Homo sapiens: one gene and its partners. The protein of the gene in region 3 interacts with the protein of the main gene of each other region in a biochemical or structural test. Each region holds a gene or a part of one and is shown on either strand. Other genes may lie near its edges. The genes, in order: TNFAIP3, RPS6KB1 and DEPTOR.

The links.
Region 1: the proteins of DEPTOR (region 3) and TNFAIP3 form a complex in vitro, tested with the Homo sapiens proteins (one study listed by BioGRID).
Region 2: of the proteins of DEPTOR (region 3) and RPS6KB1, one has a biochemical effect on the other in vitro, tested with the Homo sapiens proteins (one study listed by BioGRID).

What each region holds. Positions count from the first base shown.
Region 1 is NC_000006.12:137,870,148-137,877,258, reverse strand, and holds part of TNFAIP3 (tumor necrosis factor alpha-induced protein 3), read right to left. Parts: intron 6,427-7,111; exon of another isoform or gene 6,347-6,426; intron 6,225-6,346; exon of another isoform or gene 6,077-6,224; coding exon of another isoform or gene 6,032-6,076; coding exon 5,737-6,031; intron 2,415-5,736; coding exon 2,224-2,414; intron 1,572-2,223; coding exon 1,424-1,571; intron 1,264-1,423; coding exon 1,093-1,263; intron 184-1,092; coding exon 3-183; intron 1-2. UniProt on the Homo sapiens protein: Ubiquitin-editing enzyme that contains both ubiquitin ligase and deubiquitinase activities.
Region 2 is NC_000017.11:59,889,105-59,896,193, reverse strand, and holds the start of RPS6KB1 (ribosomal protein S6 kinase beta-1), read right to left. Parts: upstream 3,074-7,089; 5' UTR 3,010-3,073; coding exon 2,869-3,009; exon of another isoform or gene 2,864-2,868; intron 2,399-2,863; exon of another isoform or gene 2,270-2,398; intron 1-2,269. Other genes in the region: TUBD1 (tubulin delta chain), read left to right, coding at 5,192-5,363. UniProt on the Homo sapiens protein: Serine/threonine-protein kinase that acts downstream of mTOR signaling in response to growth factors and nutrients to promote cell proliferation, cell growth and cell cycle progression.
Region 3 is NC_000008.11:120,044,707-120,051,514, reverse strand, and holds the end of DEPTOR (DEP domain-containing mTOR-interacting protein), read right to left. Parts: intron 1,940-6,808; coding exon 1,811-1,939; 3' UTR 597-1,810; downstream 1-596. UniProt on the Homo sapiens protein: Negative regulator of the mTORC1 and mTORC2 complexes: inhibits the protein kinase activity of MTOR, thereby inactivating both complexes. DEPTOR inhibits mTORC1 and mTORC2 to induce autophagy.

The DNA of each region.
Region 1 (7,111 bases), on a different chromosome or scaffold from region 3:
ACTTTGCGGCATTGATGAGATGAGTTGTGCCATGGTCCCAGCCTTGGACGGGGATTTCTATCACCATTAAGTACTCTTTTAAGAGCTTCTCCTTCATCTCATTTTCAGGATCTGTCAAAAAGTGAACTTTTAAGTCTTCAAATCTTCCCCGGTCTCTGTTAACAAGTGGAACAGCTCGGATTTCTAAGGAAAAAAATAATACATAAGTAAAACAGTATTCTACTAAACAAGGCCATAGGTAAGTAGATCTCATTTTGAAAATGTATAAAAGATATAACTTACAGAATAGAAAAGTATTCTTAGCCACAGTTAAACCCAAATGGGAAAACAAAATGTGCTACAATCTAATATAAAAATGCACTGTTTCCAGGAAACTCACATAACATTAACCAGCCTGGAGGTGGTGGATCTTATTGGTTAAAGTCCCAGGCTTTAGAATCAGACTGACCTGAGTTTGAATCCTGGCTTTGTCACTATCAAGCTGTGTGGCATTAGGCAGGTTAGTTGACCTCTCTGAGCTTTAACTGTCTAATATGTAAAATAAGGCTACCAAGGCCTACATCTCACAAGAGTGCTAAAAGGATAAAAATGCAGTAAAATAATATTTCCAAAGCACAGTGCTTATTCCACATGAGGCTATTAAAATAACAGCTAACAGGCCAGGCATGGTGGCTCGTGCCTGTAAATTTGAGAGGCCAAAGCGAGAGACTGCTTGAGCCCAGGGGGTGGAGGCTGCAATGAGCCATGATTGTGCCACTGCACTCCAGCCTGGACAATGGAGGGAAACCCTGTCTCAAAAAGAAAAAAACTAACCTGACAGGCGTTTACTTGCTCCATACCAGGCACTGTATTAAGAGCACTGTGCGCCTTAATTTATCATGTATGAAAGTACTTTCCAAGTCATATTCAAAAAGATATGAGGGTATTATGATTACTGCTACTGCATTACTCTTACTAACCAAGCAAGTCACAGAACAATATATTTAAATAAAAATAATATACTTAAATAAGACTGTTTTAATAAGAAGCAAAAAGGAAAACCCTGATGTTTCAGTGTCTAGTTATAGATGTGAATTAATGCAGTTTTCTCACCAGGCCCACTGTCCTTCAGGGTCACCAAGGGTACAAAATGATGGCTGTCATAGCCGAGAACAATGGGGTATCTGTAGCATTCCTGGGCAGGCCAGTGGAGAGGCAAGTAAATTCCACCCACTTTCAAAGGGGCGAAATTGGAACCTGATTCCAAACTTCTTAGCATTTTGTCTGTTCAAAGAAAGAGAAAGGAAAATGAGGCCCTTAGGTGACTTTCATCAAATTCCATTGAACTCTGTTACCTGAACTTTGGCAGTGTGGTTTTCTCCAGGAGCCAAGGCATAAGGCTGAAAGCATTTAAGTACAGATCCGTGATCTGCAGGCATCTCACCTGAAATGACAATGATTGGCCTTCTGAGGATGTTGCAAAGGACAAATATGTGTATTTCTTCCAGTGAGTTGTACTGAAGTCCACTTCGGGCCATGGGTGTGTCTGTGGAAGCCATTTTGATAAGATTGTCCCATTCATCATTCCAGTTCTAAGGGGAGCGGGGTGAAAAAAAAGCTTGAATGTATCCTGTACTCCCTGTACTAAAAAGTCATTCTGACATCACTCTACAATTATTCATTTATATAACTCAGCTTATTTTTTCCCCTTTCATGAAACCATCATTCAAATGATCACCCTTTTTTCCCCATTTCGGTTTTCTTCCTTTACTTTTTTCCACTACAAGGCAAACTCAAAAGTTGGGGAGGACGGGGACAGCACCTGCTTTAAAAAAAAATCCCTGATGAGGTATCATATTGCAGCCCCTTATCCAAATGTTCACAAAAATTCCAAACTTGTGACTGAGGATGGTGAGGCACGTGTCTTAATCTTACTGGCTGGCTCAGCAAAGCTAAGGGCAATCAAACTGAAAAACAACAAAACACCAGTGGAAAAGGCCATGATCAAAAGACTCGCTGCTACAGGAACGGATCCACAGCTGGGAATCTGCTAACCAAAAGCAGGGCAAAAGCCTTGGGTGAGTCCCACTGGAGGTTTCTGGTGTTTTCCATTGAGTATGCTTCGCTTAGCCAAATTCATGTGACCTAGTCCATCAGATGCTACCAGAGGGCAGGGACTCGCCCAGGGGTACCCTATGCCCACCATGGAGCTCTGTTAGTAGATAATTAGGGGGAAAAACCTACCCGAGTATCATAGCAAAGCCCCGTTTCAACAAATTCCTGAGATTTGAGAGACTCCAGTTGCCAGCGGAATTTAAAGTTGCGTGTGTCTGTTTCCTTGAGCGTGCTGAACAGCGCCTTCCTCAGTACCAAGTCTGTGTCCTGAACGCCCCACATGTACTGAGAAGTGGCATGCATGAGGCAATTGCCGTCACCTGAGGACAGAAAGGAGGAGAAGAGAAGGAAAGTCAAGTTATCTGCATGTAAGACCCAGCAAAGGTTTTCAGAATAAACCAGCCCTACTGCTATTCTAGGGGACTGAATGGTTTAATTTGATGTAATTTCCTAGTCAAGGGCAAACTGATATTTCACAAGATGATGACAGCTTTAAGAAAAAAAGAGTTCTTTTTATTCTTCTTTTTAATGAATGACACCAACTGCAAAGGAGCCAGGGGACCTTGGTTCTAGCTTAAGTCTGCTCCTAACTAGTTTAGGTGACCTGGAGGAAATTCCTTAAGTTCACTGGGCATTTTTCCTCTTGTGAAATGAGGGCAGTAAGTGATGATCTCTAAAGCCCTATCCCTTCCTACCATCCCTTGATTTGCTGGTGAAGGCACTGGCATTGCTGCTCTCTAGTTCTAAGGAGGAGCACACAGGGCAACATGCACAAACCAGGAAGCAGGCATGGCTTGCTAGATAGGGATGGTCTGGCTATGACTCAATGGCAAATGACTTGACCATTCCACTTTAGCCTTTGGGCCCTGGGAGTTTCCTCTCCTGGTGTGGAAAGTCGTATTGACAACACGGAATTACCTATGGCCTGCTAGTCCGGCTCTCAAAAATGCCTTATGCAAACCTGCTTGTTAGTAACTGTAAAGTACAAAAGTTAAAAAGCACCTGGGTGTCTAAATTTGAAAATAATTCAGTGTTTAGGGCTAACATTTTGAGAAGAAAAACAAACAAAAAAACAGGTTTAATTGTATGCCATTAATCTGTGACCTTTCCAGTTTAAAACTCACAATTCAATGGGCTGCATTTTTTTCAACCCCCAAACGATAAATATTTTGGGGGAATGTTTAAAACAAAAAAAGTTAACTCCTTAATCTCCTTTGGCAAGTGCAAAATAATTTTTATAATGAAAAGTTACATTGTTTCTTACATTACTCTATAAGTAGGGCAATAGAGCTATTTGAAATTTTATCAAATTGTAATTACAGTCAAACTGTAAAGAAACCAAAAAACCCTCAAATATACTTCCACAGCCAGTATTCCTTCAATGTATACATTTAGAAAAACTAGCTAAGTATTCAAACAAATGAACAAAAAAGATCGCCCAAGCCTTGTGTCTTGGCAGACGTGTAGCAATGATTGCGTTCTGTTGAAATTTCCCCTTTGCAAAATCTAGAGCAAAGATAAGGCTTTTTTTCTTCTTGTGCTTACTTTCAGTTCTTTATTGAGATGCACCAGTATAAAATTCCCTAAGTAACATCTGGAATTCCCCAGTGCTAAGTTATTTGACTAGCAATTGAGCAACAGCTATTGTACTTTTTGTTCTGGTGTGTAGACATTTAAACTGCGAAGTGCACCCTGGACTTTCCAAGTGGGTGTGGTCAGGGTGAGCTGGAATAGGGCTACTCATTATACAAGTGAAATCGCTGCAGCCAATAGACGCTGGAATTTTTCACATGAAGTTTCAATTTTATGCCACCTACTCCCTTCCTCATTCACCGCAGTCTCATATCCTCAAATGCAAACTTGTGAATCACCCCCTCCCCAAACAGATATTGCCTTTGAAGAACCCTCCTATCAGGGGAAGGATTAATTTTTTTTTAAAAGGTGCTAATTAAAATCAAAGAAAAAGTCATTTGTTTTCCTCCCTCCCTAAATATCTTTTCTTCCTTTTTTAGAATCTTAAGGAGTTTTCTTGAAAGTGAAGAAACAAAAGGACTCTGAGTCTAAAAATGATTTCCCAGAAAATGTTACCAAAATGCACCTGCTTTTGTAGTTTTATTTGTAGTGTGGCTCCTTGTTGATTTAAATGACATGTTTACAAAATAAGTGTTTCCTATTTATATTCCTTTTTTTTTTCTAGTGGAAATAGAGCATTTCCTTTCTTAAGGAAATAAAGCTAAAAGTCAGTTAATTCTCTTAATAAGGTGTTCCTCTTTCTACCACATTTTTAATTCAGCAGAATCTTTGTTTCCAACTCCCCCAAAGTTGACTCCATCTCTTTTTGGTAACAAATGGGAGATGATTAAAACCACAAATTGTCAGGCACATAAACCCCGTGATGATGACTTCACATAATTACCTACCTCTAAGTATCACTTAATTTAATGCCAAGAACAATGCAGATAGTAGCTATCCCCAGTTTTCTTTCTATCTATGTTTCTAAGAATCAGTGTTTCATAAATCTAGGCAAGACGTTGGGGTAATGTACAAGAGCCCCCAGAATCAAAATTTAAAAACCCATGTCCACCAATCACTCTAAGTTACCCAAGTCAAAAAAAGCCAAAGTTAATGTACTTGGCTTTTGAATGAAGTTAATTAAGTTAGTGTTCTTATCGTAATCCTTGTCAACAAGGATTTTCTGCCCTTGGACATATTATTTCTATTAGGATGGTTTGGGACTGTCACAGATATAAGGACCTGAGATTCCTGCTCTTATGTAGACTATGAGCATTTAATTGAGCTTGTACAGTCAACTTCCTTATTGTCATAATTATGCACATCCATAGAGCAGAATTTTGTGCCTGCATGAAACAGTATGCTCTGACATTCCTGTTGATGCACATATTCTTACCCAAGGGAAATGATTAAAAAACAAAACAGTAAAGCTTGGAATAGGAAATAGCTACTAGTGGTAAAGGCCATTGGCAGAACAGCACAGACAGGAAGGAATTCAGTGACTAAGAACCCCTAAAAATAATGAAGGTGAAGTCTAAAATTCATGCTAAAAATCTCAGCTATCTGTCTATTTCACCTTGCAGGGCATAGGCAATAGAACCTAGGTCAGAGAGGAGGAGGAGACAAAAGAAGTTCTTCATGTCTTCAACAGCCATTCACTGGTTAACCCATAAAATGCTACCAATTCAAGAAGTGTAAGAACATCACAAGCATTTTCTAATGACAGTGGGAAACAAATGTACTACCAGTTTTCACACCATTCTTTCCTTTTGAACTTAAAGGCTTTTAACATTTCCATTACGGGCCAGAGAAGGGTATTTTACAGATGATTAGACATTTGCAAGAATTAGAAAGAAATCACCTAATGGAGGTATGGTGTTTACAAATGCATTCTCCAAGCCTCAATGTGCTCTGCAATATACACAATCAGAAAATATCCTTAATAAATAGATTCACAAAACAAGTCTGCTATTATCACATACCCCGAATAGAGATTCTATATAAAGGTCTCAATACTAAATCTCAAGATTGATTTGAGTTTGGGCTTGTCCTATTAAAGCTTCATGAATGGGGATCCAGCAGGCGGGAGCTATCACCCAGGCAAAAGAAACACAACAGAACAAGTCTTACCGTTCGTTTTCAGCGCCACAAGCTTCCGGACTTCTCGACACCAGTTGAGTTTCTTCTGGCTTTCCAGGGTGGCCTGGATGTTTCTGTCGATGAGGGCTTTGTGGATGATCTCCCGAAACTGAGGACAAAACTGGCAAGTTCTGAACATTTCCAGTGTGTATCGGTGCATGGTTTTAAAATGATGAATGATCCCATTAGTAGGTTTAAAAATGTCTTCTGGAGTTCTCTCCCGTATCTTCACAGCTTTCCGCATATTGCTCAAATACAAAGCCTGAGGAAGGACTTGTTCAGCCATTGTGCTCTCCAACACCTGAAAAGGAAAGGAAAAAAAAAAAGCCATTCTATTAGCCTGACTTTAATACGACTCCTCTATAGCTGCCTGCAGGAAACCCCAGTGTTTGATCTTGTCATTACCCTGATCTGTAGGCAAAAGATCTTAGCACCTCTACTCCCGGGATACTAGCTGGCCCCAGAGATTAACTCACACTGGACTGTTTTAAGTTACATCACTTTAAAAGATTAGCCTAAACAAGAGAAGGAAGGCAGAGAGTGGGTACTGAGGAGGAGGGGAATAACCCGTGTTTTCAGTAATGTTTGTCAGGGAGCCAACCCTGTCTGTCAGCAACAGGTACTGCTCCTCAAAACCAACTTAAGCTCCCGTTTCATTCTGAGGCCACCCTGAACAGCACTGGATTTGGGGAGTACTGGATGCCAGTTAAGGGCTCAAAGTAGCCCTGACAAGTCTGTAGCTCCTCCCCTCAGACCACCACCAAGCACTCCTGCTCTTGGGCAAACTCTTGAGTTATCACTCCCTCCCTATGCTGGAAGGACAGTAAAATACTTTATGAAAAATCTTGCAATTTTATGCTGTCACTTAGGCTGCTGGTTGGTGTTTCCTCTTTAGCCCCAAAGAGAAGTATTTATAAAGTGTTTAATCATGAAGTTTATTCTGATGTTTATAAAGAGTTAAAACCGAATGTTTTCTAATCAATAAAAAAGTCCATTTCCAGCAAGATGCTTTGCAATTTTAAGAGCAGTCAGCATTCCTTCAGAACCTCCGCACCGGACTTCATATCAGAATAAGAAACAGACTAACAATAGGCTAGGCATGGTGGCTCATGCCTTTAATCCTGGCACTTTGGGAGGTCGAGGGAGGAGGATCACTTAAGCTCAGGAGTTTGAGACTAGCCTGGGCAACACGGTGAGACCTAGGTCTCTACGAAAACAAAAAATGAAAAACCGCAAAATAATAATAGAACAATAAATTCTATACTTCTAAGAACAGATATTGGAGCTCAATCATTTTAACTCAACTGCCAATGAAATTTTATCATCACCCTCCAGGTACCAACACAGAGGCAAGTCTGCCTGGCTT
Region 2 (7,089 bases), on a different chromosome or scaffold from region 3:
AAAATAAAATAAACCCAGTCTGGAAATTCTATCAGTTCAACTAATGAAGATATAAAGCACCTTCCTATCCAGTTTTCTCCCCTGCCCTGCTCCAAAGCCACTGTCATAGAGAACCAACATAACTGATAAAGAGTATGGTATATGGTATAAATAATGAAAGTAATCTCATATTTGTTTCCAATTGTAACTAGTGTACCATTATGTTCGATTAAGAGGCTAATTGGAATTCTGCATGAAAACATCATTGAAAAAGCACACACCAACCGGATGCAGTGGCTCACGCCTGTAATCCCAGCACTTTGAGAGGCCAAGGCTGGCAGATTGCTGGAGCTCAGGAGTTCAGGCCCACCCTGGGCAACATGGTGAAACCCCATCTCTACTAAAATACAAACAATTAGCCAGGCATGGTGGTGCGCGCCTGTAGTCCCAGCTACTCGGAAGGCTGAGGCACGAGAATCGCTTGAGCTCAGGAGGCGGAGGCTGCAGTGAGCCGAGATCAGGCCACTGCATTCCAGCTTGGGCTACACAGTGAGACTCCATCTCAAAAAAAATTAAAATAAAATAAAGTAAAAAGCCTGGTGGGGTGGCTCACACCTGTAATCCCAGCACTTTGGGAGACTGAGGCAGGTGATCACCTGAGGTCAGATGTTCAAGACCAGCCTGGGCCACATGGTGAAACCCCATCTCTACTAAAATACAAAAAAAGTAGCCAGGTGATGTGGCGCGCCCCTGTAATCCCAGCTACTTGGGAGGCTGAGGTAGGAGAATCGCTTGAACCTGGGAGGCAGAGGCTGCAGTGAGCCGAGATCGCACCACTGCACTCCAGCCTGGGTGACAGAGGAAGACCCTGTCTCAAAAAAAAAAAAAAAAAAAAAGCCAGGCGCAGTGGCTCACACCTGTAATCCTAGCACTTTGGGAGGCCGAGGCGGGCAGATTACGAGGTCAAGAGATCGTGACCATCCTGGCTAACACAGTGAAACTCCATCTCTACTAAAAATACAAAAAATTAGCCAGGTGTGGTGGCACGCGCCTGTAGTCCCAGCTACTCAGGAGGCTGAGGCAGGAGAATCGCTTGAACCCAGGAGGCAGAGGTTGCAGTGAGCTGAGATCACGCCACTGCATTCCAGCCTGGGTGACAGAGCAAGACTGTCTCAAAAACAAAACAAAACAAAAAAACCAGAAAGAAAGAAAAGAAAAGAAAAGAAAAGAAAAAGCACACAACTCAATACCCACTTTCTAAACCGTGTGATTTTGATTTAGTCTTATTTGATTATGAAAAGAACAGTATTGGTCAGGTATGGTGGTTTATGCCTATAATCCCAGCATTTTGGGAGGCCGAGGCTGGTGGATCATTTGAGGTCAGGAGTCCGAGAACAGCCTGGCCAATATGGTGAAACCCTGTCTCTACTAAAAATACAAAAATTAGCCAGATGTGGTGGCGCATGCCTGTAATCCTAGCTACTTGGGAGGCTGAGCCATGACAATCGCTTAAACCCAGGAGGCTGAGATTGCAGTGAGCTGAGATCGCACCATTGCACTCCAGTCTGGGTGATAGAGTGAGACCCAACTCAAAACAAAACAAAAGAAACAAACAAGAAGAACAGTATTATTTTAGGCCACTTAGTTTCTTAAAGTGTTCAAAATTCTTTATATACATCATCTCAATCTTTTGTCAACAGTAGGGCAGGTGCCAGAGGAGAAAAACTGAGGGTGAGGCAAGGGAAAGGAAGCCCCTGTGTAATTAGAGCAAACATCTGACGTCATTAACCCATGTATTCAACTAGACATTGGAATTTAGATGCTAAACTACCAAGAGGTTATCAACTGATGATCATTTGGTCCAGGATCAGTGATTTAGTATGACAACATTTTTGAACTTCAGGTGCAATTTGTCATTTTTTGATAAATTTATCTAGGGAAAAAAAAAGTTATTCCATAAAGATTAACAAACCACTAAGCCAGCAGGGTGAAACCAAGCTATGCATTAGGAAATACAATTCTAAATTTAGCACCCTAAATTACAGCAAGGAAAGCCCTCATACCACCATTCACAAGTCTCTGTTCAGGCAACTTATTTCTGGCAAGCTAAATCAAGGCTGTCAACTGGTTTTTGGTTTTTTTTTCCACCTCAAAATTACATTAATTATTCTGAAAAAAATACAGACATCTTCAACTTGGGGAAAGGTTACAAGTGCCGTGTGTCCTTATAAATGCTTATTTTAAAAAGTCACACGGAAGGGGGTAAAAAAAAAAAAGCAAACAAACAAACCCTGGAAGATTGGAAGATGCAGCAGAGCCCCCTTGCTCCCGAAATAAAACTCCTGGTGGCTGTAACAGCAGCGGCAGTGCTACTCCCGACAGAAGTTTTCAGCTGTCACTTCTAACAGCTGAGCGCTTCCTAGGAGAGAAGCGACAGGCCGAGAAGAGAGGTGGTTGTGGGAGGTCTGAAGATTCAATACTTGAAATTCTAGACTCGAAGGGAAACCCTCCACACTTCGCCTGCACTTACGGGACACCCAGCAAGAGCAGCCCCCGTCTCCCCAACACACGCTCACGCCACCCGCTCCCCGCCACACTCAAGTCCAACAGCTCGAGGAATCGACCACGCGCCCGTTCTCTTTCCCTCTTCAGATCGCTCGGGGCTGCGCTGACCTGGGGCTAAGGGTGCGACCTGCACCTGCGAGCCCCGCAGAGGCCTCACACCTAGGGCCATGACCGCCCCGCCCGCTCCCCTGTCTCAGGCCGCGCGACCCTCAGCTCCTCAGGAGCCCCCCTGGGTCTCCACGCTCTAGGACACACCGCGCTTCCTGAGCCCGCGCCGCCGCCCCGGCCCTGTCACCTCGGGCCCCCGGGGACCCCGGGCCTCACCCCCTCCTCCAGCTCATCCTCAGAGCCCGCGTCCTCTGGCTGGTCCAGGTCTATGTCAAACACTCCTGCCATGTCCTCAGCTTCCCTGTCTCGGAAGTCCGGGGCTGGGTAAAAGCCGTCCCGCCTCCTTCGTCGCCTCATGGGCCCGGACCCGCCGCAGCCACCACAGCCGCTGCCGCCATCACCGGCTGCTTAGGCTCAGTGCGTCTGCGCCTAGGCCTTAGACTGGCTCCTAAAGTTCAGCGTAGGAGCATGCGTACAGGGTTCCGTGAAGCCAAACAGTGGGCAGTGGACATGCGCAGAACTATCGGCAGGATCCAGGCGCTGGCAGAAACATGCGCAAAACACCAGCCGAAGTCGCGCTTGGAGGACTAGAGCATGCGCATTGTCAGCTGGAGCGTTCGGTGGACAGTGAGCATGCGTACCATATCTGAAGTTCGTAAATTGAAATTGAACATGCGTAATTAATCTTTCTGAATAGGAAAAAATATATACACAACAAAACTCTCCGTTTATGGAACATGCGCATTTGTTCTCAGTAAGTTTTTCGTTTTGAAAGTGAGCATGCGCATGGTGAGTAGGTTGGTCCGAAGTTTGAACCGGACAGAAGCGCTGGTCGGCGTCTGGCGGTGAGTCGGGTTACGTGTGGAGAACTCCTGGGGCCCGTGGGGAACGGGGGACCTTTTGGCTTTGCTCTTTACTAGTTCTGTGGCCTTGGAAAAGTCAATAACCTTTCAGAGCCTCAGTTTCCTTATCTGTAAAATGAGGATAATAATAAACCTACTTTGCCGGTTTGACATTTTAAGCACAGAGTCTGTCTCACAACCCACGGCTCATTTCCAGTGCTGCATAGACCTGATGTGAAGTCTTTATCAAAACTTGTCTTTTCCTAGGTAAAAATAATGAGGAACTGCTCTAATGTTTCTTTTGCTTTCTTTCTTTTTCAAATGGAGACAGGGTCTCGCTGTGTTGCCCAGGCTGGTCTGGAATCCCTGGGCTCAGGTGATCCTCCCGCCTCGGCCTCCCAAAGTACTGGGATTACAGGCATGAGCCATTGCGCCCGGTTAATATTTCATCTGGTTTTCTTTCTCCAAGCTGCATCTTTCTTGCTGTCCTACCTGAGCTAAACACAAAATCTTTCTTACAGGTCTTACTAAAGTTACCAGGCTAGACTAGTGGAGAAAGCGTAAGCTATTATTTAGAAGAGAGAAAATTAATGTTAATTGAATGTACAATGTTGAGCACACTTCTGTGTTCTACATGTTCATGTGGTGTGAAGGGTGGTACTACTAATTTCTTCAATCAGCATTTGTTTTGTCTTGTTTTTATTTTTTTAATTTTAATTTTTTTTTTTTCTGGAGACAGGAGGATGTCACTTTGTCACCCAGGCTGGAGTGCGGTGGCAAGATCTTGGCTCACTGCAGCCTGGACCTCCCAGGCTCAGGGGATCCTCCCACCTCAGCCTCCCGAGTAGCTGGGACTGCAGGCGCACACCACCACGCCAAGCTAATGGTTGTATTTTTTGTACAAACAGGGTTTTGCCATGTTGACCAGGTCTGGAACAGCCAGGCTCACGTGATTCTCCCAACTCAGCCTCCCAAAATGCTGGGATTACAGGTGTGAGCCACGCACCCAGCCTCTTTTTTTCTTTTATCACTCCTCAACTGAGGAGAATGTTTTGTTTTAAACATATGTTTAGGAAAAAAGTGATTACAAATCAGATTTTGGAAACTATTGAGCTGTGTATGAATGGATTCAGGTACAGTAAATCACAAATCCCAAAACCATGTAGAGAGTATGAGAACTTCCTTGAATGACTAGCTCCTTAGACAACACAGCTGTTCTATCTCCAATATTATATACGTATGTGGCATTTTAAAATGACTTTTTGGGCCGGGCGTGGTGGCTCAAGCCTGTAATCCCAGCACTTTGGGAGGCTGAGGTAGGTGGAGGTGGATCACGAGGTCAAGAGTTCAAGACCAACCTGGCCAACATGGTGAAACCCCATCTCTACTAAGAATACAAAAATTAGCCAGGCGTGGTGGCACGTGCCTGTAATCCCAGCTACTCGGGAGGCTGAGGCAGGAGAATCGCTTGAACCTGGGAGGCGGAGGTTGCATTAAGCCGAGAACATGCCACTGCACTCTAGCCTGGGTGACAGAACAAGACTCCGTCTCAGGGGGGAAAAAAGACTTTTTATTGATGTATAATTAACATACATGGCATTTTATTTGTTCTTATTAGTAATGTAGTGGTTCTCAAAGCGTATTTTTTTCGATTACAGGTTGTTTTTAGAGGTAATACACCTAGTTTGTGGCTCAGCATGTCAATTGTAACAGTGCAACTTGGTCAGTGTGGCAATCAGATTGGTTTTGAAGTTTTTGATGCTTTGCTTAGTGACTCACACAGTTCCCAGGGACTCTGCTCTATGAGAGAGAATGAGGCATATCAAGCATCTTGCAAAGAAAGATTCTTCAGTGAGGAGGAGAATGGAGGTAGGTGTGGCCCACAGTCCTCTCCTTTACTCTGATCTAACCAACCCCTTCAAAGCCAGGCCTTCCACATGGTTTTTAAACCCCATTCCTTCCCATCTCACTAGGGAATTACTTTGTTTTTGCTTTTCATTTCTATGTTAATAATCTTTGCTTTTCCAGTGGCATTTTCCCTTCTGCATGCTCAGATCTCACCAATTTAAAACCAACCAAACAAAACTCATCTATTGACTGGCTTTCTTCTTCTTATCTCTTTGCCTTTCATCTAAGATTCTCAAAAGAGGACCCTGCTGGCTGGGCGTGGTGGCTCACGCCTGTAATCCCAGCACTTTGAGAGGCCGAGGCGAGTGGATCACAAGGTCAGGAGTTCAAGACCAGCCTGACCAACATGGTGAAACCCCATCTCTACTAAAAATACAAAAATTAGCTGGGCGTGGTGGCATGTGCCTGTAATCCCAGCTACTCGGGAGGCTGAGGCAGGAGAATCACTTGAACCCAGGAGGCAGAGGTTGCAGTGAGCCGAGACCGCACCACTGCCCTCCAGCCTGGTGACAGAGCGAGACTCCATCTCCAAAAAAAATAAAAGGACCCTGCTTAACCACCTATGATCCTGCTTCTGCCCCACATAGCATCATTGAAGCTGCTCTAAGAAAAGTTTCCAGTGACCTCCGAATCACCAGATCCAACTACTGTTTTTCTTTTCTTTTTTTCTTTTTCTTGTAGAGACAGGTTCTTACTACACTATGTTGCCCAAGCTGGAGTGCGGTGGCTATTCACAGGTCTCCTGAGTAGCTGGGACTGCAGGTGCATGCCACCATGCCTGGCTCTTTCTTTTCTCTGTCTCTCTTTTTTTTTTTTTTTTTTTTGAGAGAGTCTCGCTCTGTCACCCGGGCTGAAGTGCAGTGATGTGATCTTGGCTCACTGTAACCTCCACCTCCCGTGTTCAAGCAATTCTCCTGCCTCAGCCTCCCAAGTAGCTGGAATTACAGGTGCCCACGACCATGTCTGGCTAATTTTTGTATTTTTAGTAGAGACAGGGTTTTGCCATGTTGGCCAGGCTGGTCTCGAATGCCTGATCTCAAGTGATCCGCCTGCCTTGGCCTCCCAAAGTGATGGGATTACAGGCTCTCTTTCTTTTTCTTTTTCTTTTTTTTTTTTTTTTTTTGAGACAGAGTCTAGCTCTGTCACCCAGACTGGAGTGCAGTGGTGCGATCTTGGCTCACTGCAACCTCCGACTACCAGGTTGAAGCAATTCTCCTGCCTCAGCCTCATGAGTAGCTGGGACTACAGGCATGCGCCACCACGCCCAACTAATTTTTTTGTATTTTTAGTAGAGATGGGGTTTTACCATGTTGGTCAGGCTGGTCTCGAACTCCTGACCTCAAATGATCTGCCCACCTCAGCTTCCCAAAGTGCTGGGATTACAGGCGTGAGCCACTGTGCCCAGCCTCTCTTTCTTTTCTTAATTCACTTTACTCCTCTACTGCGTTTGATAACAGTAACGTATAAAAACTCTTTCCAGCAGGGCGCAGTGGCTCACGCCTATAATCCCAGCACTTTGGGAGGCCAAGGCAGGCAGATCACTTGAGGTCAGGAGTTAGAGACCAGCCTGGCCAACAGGGTAAAACCCCGTCTCGACTAAAAATACAAAAATTAGCCGGACATGGTGGCACATACCTGTAATCCCAGTTATTCGGGAGGGTGAGGCAGGAGAATCACTTGAACCCGG
Region 3 (6,808 bases):
TTCCTCATTTGTAAAATGGAGATAATGACCGTATTGACTTCACAGGTAAATAAGGACAAATGGCGTAAAGTCTTAGCATACAGCCTGGCTCAGAATAAACCCTCAATATAAGGTCCTTAAATGGGGAAAAGTTGAGGGGAGTAACATGGGATTTAGCGTTAAACCTGTGTTTACATTCAGCCTATTTCACCTAGTAGTTCCTGCAGCCGTGTGAATTTAGAGACCATTTTAAAACTTGCTCAGGCTTAGTTTCCACATCTGAAAAATGTGGACGTTAATATCTACCTTGCAAGGTTGCATTGAGGGTTAAAGGATATCATATATATTAAATGCACAGAGCCTGCCATACAGTACAAATGCACACCCACACAGAGGTGATAGTATTTCTCAAATGTATATCAACAGTATTACTGTTAGACATTCTCTGTCACTCCAAAATCCTATTCTCTGACTAAAGCTACAAATCAGAAAAGTTGGATTACCAGAAATATATATATATATATATATATATATATATATGTCTATAACATATTTAGCACGGTAGGTCCATTCCACCAGTACCTATACATTACGATAACCTAATGAAAAGAAATGGCTGTGGTACAATTCTCATATTTTATTTTGTTAATGCATGATAAAAAATTAACGTCATCATTCAGATCCATTATTTGGAATGAAGAATTTAGTATTTCCTGACTGCCTAATTTGGCACTTTGAGGAATTTCCTCTGCACGCTGAGCCCCAAAATGCACTATTTTCTAGACCAAAAATGAAAACGTGCGTATATACAAGTGAGCTGAAAAGTTACAACACAAGATGATCATTTTGGTGAAAAATAATCCCCCCAAATAAGCAGCATGTCATGTCCTTAGAATATGTTACACTAGAAAGCTAGTAAAAATTCAGGCTAAGGAGGCAATTTAGAGTTCAAGTTTTATCACATATCAGCAAAGTTTTAGCCTTCCCTTAAAAACAGACACCTTCAAAGTGAAATCTTGCCAGAAGGGTTGATTTTTAATTATGTGTATATACAAACTTCTCTATTTTAACATTCAACATATTCAGGATTAATTCTAGAAAGATGCTATAGCTGATTTATAAAACAAAATGATTTAGGATCAGAAAGAAAATAGGGGCACACAATTTCATGTAGTCTCTCCCTAACTACCCCCAACCATAGCATCACAAGGTTTTTTTTTTTCCTAATGCCACAATTGAAACCTGTATTAACTTAAAAGTTGACACTAAAGGCAGGAATTAAGAAGTCATTTTTTATGGCTTTTAAGCACTTGAATGCTTTAGAACCCCCTTGAAAATGCTAGTGAACAGGTCTTATTCCTTTAAATGTTGCTTTGATTTGAATCTTGGTGAAATCTAGATTCCCTATTAAATAGCTGCATGCTAATTTTGGAGAAAGTACAATTTAAAACCTTTAACAACTACTCTATTGACTCTGAAGAAGGGGACTTTAGCATGTCGCTGTTTGGGCTAGAGAAGCATTTCAACACCTTTCTGCAAACTAAGATAAAAAACAATGAATGAGAGCTACAAATAGAAATCTAGTAAGGCAGTTCTATCATGTAGGAAAATGGTTTCCCAAATGTTTTCTACACTGACATTTTTTAAAAAAGATATGATACCCGGTTCTTCCACATTCAGTGTATAAAACTCAACTTTAGACATGTATGTGCGGAGAAGACTCGTATGTCCAAAACCATCCATTTGCATGGCAATCTTGTCTTTGCATTGCTTTGTGTCATTCTGGCTTCCCTCACCCACAGGCCACTGGAGGGCTGGGAGGCCCAGGAGCTCAGCACTCTAACTCCTCCATGACTTCCATGACAATCGTCCGTGGGCCCGTCAGAATCAGATTGCTCACGGTCCGGTAGTCTACATGCAGGACATTGAGCCCGTTGACAGAGACGACAAACTGACAGACCTAAAGGAAAGATGCAAAGAAAGAGCATCTATTATAGCGCCTGGTTTTGCACAAAGCTTTAATAAAGACAGTGTGTAGCCCTAACAGGTAACTTCATTCTTAAAATATCCAAATGTATCCAGCTGACGACTCCAATTCAATAATTTCCAAGGAGCTACACATTTTCTGGAAGGCAGTATAATTTAAAAAAAAAAAAATCGTTTTAGTGTTTTACAAAATTTGGCTTAAATCCTAACTCAGAGACATACTAGCTTTAGCTAGTATTTAAATACTAGCTAGGTATTTAAATTTCTGAGCTTTATTTCCCTCAACCCTAAAATAAGAATTAATAATAATAATAAGAGTAATACCTACCTTATAAGACTGTTGTAAGAATTAATGACATATATAGTTTCTACTTGCAGTAATTCACAGGCATGCTTGCTCCCAATTATTAATTATTAGTGTTGAGGACTCAACCAAAGAATGTAAAAAATACCAAAACACCTTGGGAACCATCATTTCCTTTTATTGTTTTCTGTGTGGGTAATATCGATGTAAACTTAAACATGATATTAAGTCCAAAAATATCTATACTTATTACTTAGATACAACAAAATTGGAGAGTACTGGGAAGAGTATTGGAAAGCTCTGTCACTGTGGAAAAGATGAGGGGACTTAGAATCAAAGATACAGATTTAAGTTATAGGTCCCTTTGGTGGAATACATTAATCAAGTAATTTCTCCTCTTCTATGTTTCAACGATATAAATGCCTCACTTGTACAACAGGTAAAAACGCCTATTCTCACAGGCTCACACTAGATAGTGCATTTGAAACCTCTTTGCAAACACCAAGCACTACACCGATGCTGAGTACTATTAATCTCTTTCCTTTCAAAAAATACCCACTTCTTTCACGGTCACAGGCAAAACAAAATGGAAAGCGGGCAGTAGTACACAGACTGCTTATTTACTCAATAAACACTCGCTGTTGTCATAAACCTTGATACTTTGCACTCCCCAACCTACTAGGGTGTTTTCTCCACATAAGATCACACTATTACTGTTTCTCTTTTCTTGGTTCCACAAATTTGTCTTCATGGATTCAGGGTACATCTTATACAAAATCAGCAGTTTTCAACCATGGTGGAGGTCACAGTCATAATCAAGGTCACACAAACAGGTCACAATCTATCCTGAACTAGGCCACAGTAATTTGCAAGACAATTTAGCAGTAATTTGCAATTTAGCAGGCATCAGCCTGGGCTTTGTTTTTTTCTGCTGCAGCAGACTCATGAGCCAAAGAATGAGAAGAATTTCACCTCCTTCCCAACCCAGAGCTTTAGACCCTAGACTTGGAAATTTCAAATCCCTTGTCTTTTCCACAGATACAGGGGTTTCTTTTTCCAAAAAGATGAATAGCCTTTTTGCACTGCCAAATAAGAGGGCAGGAGTTGCCAGGTGAGTGCCCTCTCCAGCTGACCCTTCGCAGGCTCCCTGAGATTAGCCATGTCTCCGCATCGCTCAGGGATCACATTTCACCATTTACTTTTTTTTTTTTTTGACATGGAGTCTCCCTCTGTTGCCCAGGCTGGAGTGCTGTGGCACGATCTCCTCCATCTCCCAGGCTCAAGCGATCCTCCCACCTCAGCCTCCCGAGTAGCTGGGATTACAGGTGTGTGCCACCATGCCCAGCTAATTTTTTGTATTTTTGGTAGAGAGGGGGTTCGCCATGTTGGCCAGTCTGGTCTTGAACTCTTGACCTCCGGTGATCCTCCCACCTTGGCCTCCCAAAGTGCTGGGATTATAGGTGTGAGCCACCACACTTGGCCTCAGCATTTAGTCTTAACCACAATTGTGTGTCCTCTGTCACACATCATGTTTGTTTTAATTGACCAGCATTTAAAATTTAGAAAATCTGCCAGGCACAGTAGCTCATGCCTGTAATCCCAGCACTTTGGGAGGCCGAGGCAGGTGGATCACTTGAGGTGGATCAGCCTGGCGGGTGGATCAGCCTGGTCAACATGGTGAAACCCCGTCTCTACTAAAAATACAAAAAAATTAGCTGGGCGTGGTGGCGGATGCCTGTAATCCCAGCTACTTGGAAAGCTGAGGCAGAAGAATCACTTGAACCCGGGAGGTGGAGGTTGTAGTGAGCCGAGATCACACCATTGCACTCCAGCCTGGGCAACAACAGTGAAACTCCATTTCAAAAAATAAAAGTAAAAAATAAAATAAAATTTGGAAAATCTTTGCATAAAAATCCAGACTCTGGGCTGGGTGCAGTGGCTCACATCTGTAATCCCAGCACTTTGGGAGGCCGAAGCGGGCAGATCACCTGAGGCCAGAAGTTCAAGACCAGCCTGGCCAACATGGTGAAACCCCATCTCTACTAAAAATACAAAAATTAGCCAGGTGTAGTGGCACACCTGTAATCCCAGCTACTCAGGAGCCTGGGGCAGGAGAATTGCTTGAACCTGGGAGGCAGAGGTTGCAGTGGGCCGAGATTCTGCCACTGCACTCTAGCCTGGGCAACAAAGCAAGACTCTGTCTCAAAATAAATAAATAAATAAAAACCCAGACTCTGGCTTCTCTGGGACAATCAGAAGCTGTGATCATACCAGGTGTAGATGGCCATGTGGCCATGGCTGAGTAGAGCCTGCCTGTTCTACACATGGCATGGACACTCATTTGCCACAGTCCTTACGGCTTCCTATCTTCCTAACACCTGGCTGACAGGCATGTGAGTTTGTGGTCCCTGATCTATGGCCACCAGAGGGAAAAGCGTTGAAGACAGGGTGGCTTGAAGCTTCAAGAACTGAAGGACCCCAATGTTTGTCAACAGATGAAAGGAGGTTGGGCGTGGTGGCACATGCCTGTAATCCTAACACTTTGGGAGGCTGAGGCAGAAGGATTGCTTGAGCCAGCCTGGACAACATAGTGAGACTCCGTCTCTACAAAATATATATATCTATATATTTAAAAAATTTAAAAAGACAGATGAAAGGAGAAATATAATTCAGTATATCCATACAGTGGAATATTATTCGGCCATAAAATGGAACATACAACATGCTACAACATGGGTGAGCCCTGAAAACATTATGCTAAGTAAAAGATGCCAGTCAGAATAGACCATAGAGTGTAAGAGCCCATTTATATGAAATGTCCAGAGTAGGCAAATCCACAGAGACAGCAAGTAGATTATTGATTACTTAGGGTTGGGAGCAGGGGTGGTGGGGTGGGGCATGGAAGTGGTTGGTAATGGGTACGGGGTTTCTTTTAGGGGTGATAAAAATGCTCTAAAATTGTTGTAATAGTGACATAAATCTGTGAATATATTAAAAACTACTGAATTCTACAGTTTACATGGATAAATTGCATGGTATGTGAACTATATCTCCATAAAGCTCTTAGTTAAGTAATGAAACAAAACAAAACAATAAACATTGAAGGGAAGAGGGCCCTGATGCTAACAGTGGGTAGATTCTTGGTCTACAAGGATCTCCCTTCTGTCTAGAAGGGAGAGGCTGGTTTGGTTCAAGATGGGGTCCTGTGCACCTCTTGATTGCAGAGCTCTTGGAGGCCTCAGAAGCTAGGATGGTCAAGGCTGTATGTGTGGGAGGATGAGCACCTGGTGAACTCTGCACAGGACCTTTACCCAGGTGTTCAGGGGTAGGAAAAGGGCAGTCAGCAGGGCTGTCTGGCCAAGGGCCAGTGGCACCAGTCACTAATACTGGTCAGGGTTCATTTTACTGGACTGCCTAAAAGCCCTGGGATGGGGGCTGTGGTGGGTTATGGTGCACATGATCTCAAACGGGAAGGACATAGGCAAGGGACACCAAAATGATCTGACATTGAACTTGTCATCAACCTTGGTGATGGTCACTTCAACTGAATTTAATTTTAGAAAAACAGGCCGGGCACGTGCAGTGGCTCACGTCTGCAATCCTAGCACTTTGGGAGGCCAAGGCAGGCGGATCACTCGAGCTCAGGAGTTCAAGTCCAGCCTAGGCAACATGGCGAAACTCTGTTTCTACAAAAATAAAAATAAAAAATTAGCCAGGTGTGGTGGCACACGCCAGTAGTCCCAGCTACTTGGGGGACTGAGGCAAGAGTATCGCTTCAACCCAGGCGGTTGAAGCTGCAGTGAACCAAGATCATGCCACTGCATTCCAGCCTGAGTGACAAAGTGAGATCCTGCCTAAAAAACATAAAAGATAAAAAATAAAAAAATTAGAAAAACAGAAAAAGGTCATTTCTTGTTTTTGTTTTCTAAGTGTATGCACACACACATTTCTCAAATGCCAAAGTTTGTGACTAATTCACTCTTTCATAAAGTAAGGCTGATTCAGGGCTACCCTAGGCATAAAGACAGTCTCACTCCCTTGCGTTCCCACATGCTGTCCAGAGCAGCCAGTCAAGAGTGGGGTCAGAGCAAGCACACCGTGAACTGCTCATTTCACACAAACCTTCTTACTTGTGCTGCCACCTGAGCACATCTCTAGGGGTATAGAGGATCAGGTGAAGACCCTCTGTCACAGGTGTTCTGGAGAAAAAGCCCATGACATCTTGTACCAACTAGTGTGTGGAGAACTTAAATAAGATTTATTAGGTAGGTGCAAAAGCAATTGTGGTTTTGCAACTTTTAATTGCAAAAACTGCAGTTACTTTTGCACCAACCTAATAAATACCAGCATCTTTGCCTTCACGAAGCTTACAATTTAGTTTAGGAGGCAGAGTATCACAGGCAGGATCCTTTTCAAAATAGCAGGCAACCTCTCAATCAATTCAGTCATATATTGAAAAACCTAGTATTTCTCAAGTGCCAATCCAAGTACTTTACACACTTAATAAAAATTGTCCTAAAAGTCATATGGTGACACATC